Linked DNA regions of Homo sapiens: region 1 is linked to region 2. A link means that fine-mapping ties the variant in region 2 to the plasma level of a protein whose gene starts in the linked region. Region 2 holds a variant in brackets. A gene starts in the other region. All regions are shown on their forward strands.

Region 1 (2,905 bases), not on the chromosome of region 2:
CTGCCCCATCCTATTTGACCCATTACAGAAAGACCAAAGCTAGGACATATCATATCATGTCATAACATGATAAAACCCGGGAATAATCAGACCTGTATTTTGCTGTTACCCTGACCAATAAGTCACTATATTTTGTACATAGGAAGCAATGTTATCCCATAGGGTCTTCTAAAAGGAAGTTCCATCTTCAGATTATTCAGAACCAACTAGGTCAAGATCTGCCTAACAACACAGCTTCCTGAACATATTAAGCATAAAACTCAGAGGCAAGAACCTTGAGAAACATGTGCCAAAGTTCAGGGAATGGTCAGACACAGAAAAACAATGCTTGGCTAAGGAGCTGAAGTGTGTTTCAAAGAAAACAAGAAGAGCCTGATGTCTCATTCACCTCTCCTGGACAGCTGCCTTCTTCCGAGATGCCCAGCTTATTTGCCTGGATTCATCACGAGAGAAGTAGTTTTTAGATATATTCCACCATCTAGAGAAAGGAAATATCACTTTTTTGAAGGCGAACCAAGAAGTCTGTTTTGGGGTTGATAAATTTCTGACAGTTGCTCCCAGAGTATTTTCAACTCAAAGTATAATTTCATAAAGAGGCTTATTATGTTTTAAATTGTCTGTCTGTAAAATATACTTTCATGAAATTTTGTTTTCTCGGAATCTTCCTTTTTCCTTCTTGTATGAATCTAATGAACTTGAATTTCCAAAGTCATTGAGGTAGGAAAGGTATGTAACATTATGCTTGAGCTTTAGGTCAATAATTTATACGATAGTGGTGGTTTTGTTTTGTTTCGTTTTGTTGAGACAGAGTCTCGTCCTGTCACCCAGGCTGGAGTGCAATGGCATGATCTTGGCTCACTGCAACCCCTGCCTCCCAGGTTCAAGTGATTCTCCCACCTCAGCCTCCCAGGTAGCTGGGATTACAGGTATGCACCTCCATGCCTGGTTAATTTTTGTGTTTTTAGTAGAGACAGGGTTTCACCATGTTGGCTGGGCTGGTCTCCAACTCCTGACCTCAAGTGATCCACCCACCTTGGCCTCCCAGATTCTGGAGTTTTTTAAATGGGTCACCCTATAGAAGGCATGAAGTCATAGAATCATAATAATCACCAAAACCAACCATTGATTTCAATACTAGAAAATTTGAGACACCAGAAGGTGAAGTGACTTGCCTAGAGCCATACAATGGCAGAGGCAGGGACTGCAACCCACTATGAAAGCTTAGGGCTCTTCTCACCCTTTGGTGGCCAAAAGTATTTTGAAATTTTGACCAAAAAAATTAATGTTTATTGATCACTTTAAATCCAAAAGATGAATCCACTGGATTCCACAGTAAATTGGGTGGAATGTAAGGGAGGGATCAAAGGGCAGTGAATATATGAATGGGGAGGAGAACCATTTAGCTAGGTGCAAAAGTAATTGCGGTTTTTGCAATACTTTTGCACCAACCTAATAATTGTTCATAATTCTAAGAGCTATTCGGATCCCATTAGGAGCTTAAAAGGGACAAATGTGCTCAGGGCATGCAGTTTTTGCCTTCCGGAACTAGATCAGGATCATGCATTTAAGCTAGAAAATGGAAAGAGGAGTTGCTTCACCCACAGTCAGTGCTATTGCATCAACCAATCCCTGCCATTCTGCAGTTTCCTGGTGTATCTGCCCGGAGTCACACAGTCTTTCCTGCTAAGCCTCAGCGTCTCCTCCAAGCCACATCAAAATCTTTCCTTCTGGGCCTTTCCCAGAAGTGAATTCTTGCTGGAAGGTATAAAAGACCAGCTCCTCCAAGCAGAGCAACTCCCTGGCTGCCGTGAAAAGACAAGGCACTGGGCAGGTAAGACTCGTCAACTTTCATCTTTCCTGGTTTCTGCAAAGTTGATGATGAAATTTCCTAACGTCTTCTCAGAAAGCTTAACACTGGATTTAGACTTGTCTCTATCAGGCACTTTCTGGTGCCAGCTTTAGCCACCCCATGGCACACTCCTCTTGTTTGGTATAAGAGAGAATGTAATTAAGCCTCCCCCCACCACTGTGGGGGAAAAAGGCTTTTCTGTGTCTGAAAACTATGTCAGAGAATCATAAACTCTTAGGGCTGGAAGGTACCATAGACCTCTCTTATCCACCTTGTTTAGGAACTGAGACTTAAGCAATTTAATGTGTCCAGAGTCACACAGGAATTTGGGGGAAAACAGTGACAGAATGGTGCTCCCTGTGCTGTTCTTGAGACAGTGTGATGAAATCTGGCCTCTCCACTATAGTGGAGATTTTGCAGTGTTTTAAGGGGTTCCCTAAGCCGGAGCTGTCAGGTCTTCATCTCATTTCCAGCATCTCATGCCTGCCATCTGCAGCAGATCCGACCATCTAGTTTGCCCTCAATGTCTAGTCCTAGCTGTCTTAAGTGCCCTGTGGACACCTGGCTCTCAAGCAGGTGTGTGACCTGTATGCAGCGGTAGTAGGCAGGCTTCATTTTGGGGGAATGGGGTGGTTAAATTATATTTGTTTTTTATGCAATTGTGTGCCTCAAATCTTTCAGTTGAAGTAGATTATTTCCGCTCTAGAGGGCTTGATAAGAGCTATCTCTTCATTCTCATCCTGATCTTGGAGTCACTCAAAAGATCAAGAGAGTGTTCCTGCAGGTGATGGGGCAAGAATTATGGCTTTCCTATTGGCTCACTCCACCACCCTCCACAGGGCTCTTTACAATCATGGAAGAGAATCTCACTGACTTCATCCCTTCTCAGGCCTTCCCCCTATCTCCTTGGTGACTGCTCAGCGACATTGAGAACCAAAGTCTGGAAGGCCTTGGTACTCAGAGTGTGGTCTGCAGACCAGCAACATCATCATCACCTGGAGCTTACTGGAAATGCAGACTTTCAGGCCCCTTCTATGACCTTCTGAGTCAGAATCT
Region 2 (2,905 bases):
CTCTTAACCCCTGAGGTGAGAACCTGGGGTGAGCTCTTAACCCATGGGACCAACCCCTCTAGAGTGAGGAGACACGTCATCATTTTTCCTTGCAGTATTACATCTGGAAACCGTGCCGTGATGATCTCTCTGCACCCCTCACAGGCGGCTAACAACATCACAAACAAATCAGCCAGAACCATCACTCCCGGGTGGGGCCCCAAGTAAGCCAGTTCCCCAGGGCCCAGGGCCCTCCAGGGTGAGGTCCCCAGCAGGTGAGATTCAGTGTGGCAAGGTCTCTGGGAGCAGGTCCCAGCAGGTAAAGTCCCCGACCGCCGACATCCTCAGTAGGTGCAGCCTCCAGCAGCCAAGGTCCCCAGCAGGTGAGGTCCCCAGCAGGTGAGGTCCCCAACAGGCGAGGTCCCCAGCAGGCGAGGTCCCTAGCAGGCAAGTCTTCTGGAGGGGAGAGGCTCCTGGCAGCCGTGAAGCCCAGCGTGTGAGGTCCCAGGTAAGAGAGAGGGTTGGCCACAAAGGACTCCAGCAGGTGAGGCCCCAGGCAGATGAGGTTCCCGGCAGCCCAGGCACCATGCCGGCCTCTCAGGTGAACCAAGCCGCTATGCTGCGCACCGTCTGGTACCTGGATTCCTGCTGCAGTTTCCAGCAGGCCTTGCAGAAATCCAGTGCCCAGCTGAAGGAGCGAGGCCGCAGCGTCTCCCGCCAGCGAAAGTAGCTCAGGTAGCGGGCGTGGTCCTTGTCCAGCTCCTGCAGGTACCGGGCCAGGTCCTTGGGGCTCTGGAAGTCGTCCACGTGGATGAAGGCGTCGGGTGGCAGGAACCTCTCGTAGTTGCTTCTGCTGGGGCCCAGCACCACGGGCACGGCCCAGGCCTCCAGGGCGTTCCTCCACAGCTTCTCGGTGATGTAGTCGGGGTGCAAGGAGTTCTCGAAGGCCAGGTAGAACTTGTACCGGGACAGCGTCTCCATCATGGTCCCCTTGGGCAGGGGCTTGTGGGAGCGTCCGTACACGTCCACCTTGAGATGAGCCTGCAGGCTCTGGTAGTAGCGCACCCTGGCTGAGTCCGGCTTCCAGTTGGACACCGCCCAGGCCACCAGCTCGGTCTTGGCCGAGAGGTTGAGCGGTGGGTGGGCAGGCTGGCCGGACCACGGCTCCAGCCAGCCGTAGGGCGTGAAGATGTCGGAGTCGCTGCGGTAGGACATGGTGAGATTGAAGTATCTGTCCAGGGCTTCCAGGTGCTGGCAGTTAGGGGGTGGCTCCAAGTTGAACCAGATCCAGCGCTGCCCCTGCGGCCTCGGGGAAGGTGGGAGGCGTGACTTAGGGTTGGACATGATATCCCAGTGGTGCACGATGACCATGTCTGCCTGTGGGTACACCTTGCGGTCGGCAGTGATGTGGCAGTCGGCTGTGCCGGGCACCATCTCTGAACAGCGGGACAGAGCCACAGGGATGTGGAAAGGCCATGTCCGTAGCAGGATCAGGAGGGTGGGGCGGGTGGGAGTGGTGTCCTGTCGGGAGGACCCACTGGGAGCCCTAGGGGATCCAGTGGCATCGTCTCGGGACACACGCAGGTAGGAGAAGAAACACACAGCCACCAGCAGCTGAAATAGC[A/C]GTGCGGCCAGACAGCGGCGCCATGGCCATTGTGGCTTGGCTGCACCCAGGGGATCCATGGGTCAGAGTATCTGGGAAGAGAGGAGAGAGGAGTGAGGGTCATTGATGACAATCTCCTGCTTACCAAAGCTCCGGGCCATGAGTCCTGAGAGGAGCTGCTATTATTCCTGTTTCACAGATGAGAAAACTGAGACCAAGTGACTCACAGCAAAAATCAGCACAGCTGGTGTTTGAACAAAGGGACCTTGTCCCAGAGTCCACTTCCTTCTACCTATTAGACAAGACCTTTCCTGGAATCCCCGAAGTCTTCCCCAGTCTACTGAAATACAAGTGCCCTGGAGGCAGGGGAGAAGGCATAGCCGGTCATCATTGCTTCCCATGTCACTGAGGCAAGGCTTGAATCCATGACTCAGCCAGAGAAAGGTACAATGGGACTGGGTTTTGCAGGTAATATATGAGCTGACCGGCCGAGCAGAGTGGCTCACACCTGTAGTCCCAGCACTTTGGGAGGCCGAGGTGAGCAGATCACCTGAGGTCAGGAATTTAAGACCAGCCTGGCCAACATGATGAAACCCCATTTCTACTAAAAATACAAAAATTAGCTGGGTGTGGTGGTGCACACCTGTAGTCCCAGCTACTTGGGAGGCTGAGGCACGAGAATCACTTGAACCCAGGAGGCGGAGGTTGCAGTGAGCCAAGATGACACCACTGCATTCCAGCCTGGGTGACAGAGGGAGATTGTGTCTCAAAAATAAATAAATAAATAATAGCCGGGTTTGGTGGCTCATGCCTGTAATCCCAGCACTTTGGGAGGCTGAGGCAGGTGGATCACTTGAGGTCAGGAGTTTGAGACCAGCCTGGCCAACATGGTGAAACCCTGTTTCTACCAAAAATACAAAAATAAGCCGAGTGTGGTGGCTCATGCCTGTAATCCCAGCTGCTCGGGAGGCTGAGGCATGAGAATCACTTGAACCTGGGAGGCAGAGGTTGCAGTAAGCTGAGATCATGCCACTGCACTCCAGCCTGGGTGACAGAGCAAGATTCCATCTCAAAAATAAATAAATAAATAATTTTTTTAAAAAAAGACCAGCCTGGGCAACATGGCAAAATCCCAACTCTACTAAAAATACAAAAATTTGCCGGGCAAGGTGGCATGCGCCTGTAGTCCCAGCTACTTGGGGGAATTGCTTTAGTCTGGAAGTTTGAGGCTGCAGCAAGCTGTGATCATGCCACTTAACCCCAGCCTGGGTGATGGAGCAAGACCTTGTCTTAAAAAAATAAAATAAAAGGCTGGGCTCGGTG

Which allele goes with the higher level. Positions count from the first base shown, and alleles are read on the strand shown. Strength reflects both the effect of a copy and how common the allele is.
As copies of C replace A in region 2, the plasma level of the protein whose gene starts at base 1,676 in region 1 goes up (weak association).

The links. PIP is the posterior inclusion probability: the model's chance that the variant is causal. The UK Biobank Pharma Proteomics Project read protein levels with antibody pairs (Olink). The fine-mapping took linkage between variants from a reference panel, not from the people measured, so its PIPs are less certain.
Region 1: it holds the start of LPO, and the variant in region 2 is fine-mapped to the plasma level of the LPO protein (UK Biobank, PIP above 0.99).

The regions. Positions count from the first base shown.
Region 1 is chr17:58,236,909-58,239,813 of GRCh38, forward strand. It overlaps LPO (lactoperoxidase), which reads left to right and starts at 1,676. Exons shown (of 13, transcript NM_006151.3): 1 at 1,676-1,831.
Region 2 is chr19:5,843,178-5,846,082 of GRCh38, forward strand. FUT3 (fucosyltransferase 3 (Lewis blood group)) reads right to left here. Exons shown (of 3, transcript NM_001382750.2): 3 at 1-1,674. The coding sequence starts at 1,662. The coding sequence ends at 577. Among named protein-coding and RNA genes, the nearest start is that of FUT6, 4.9 kb to the left of the region's middle. The variant A/C (reference allele first, on the strand shown) is at 1,604.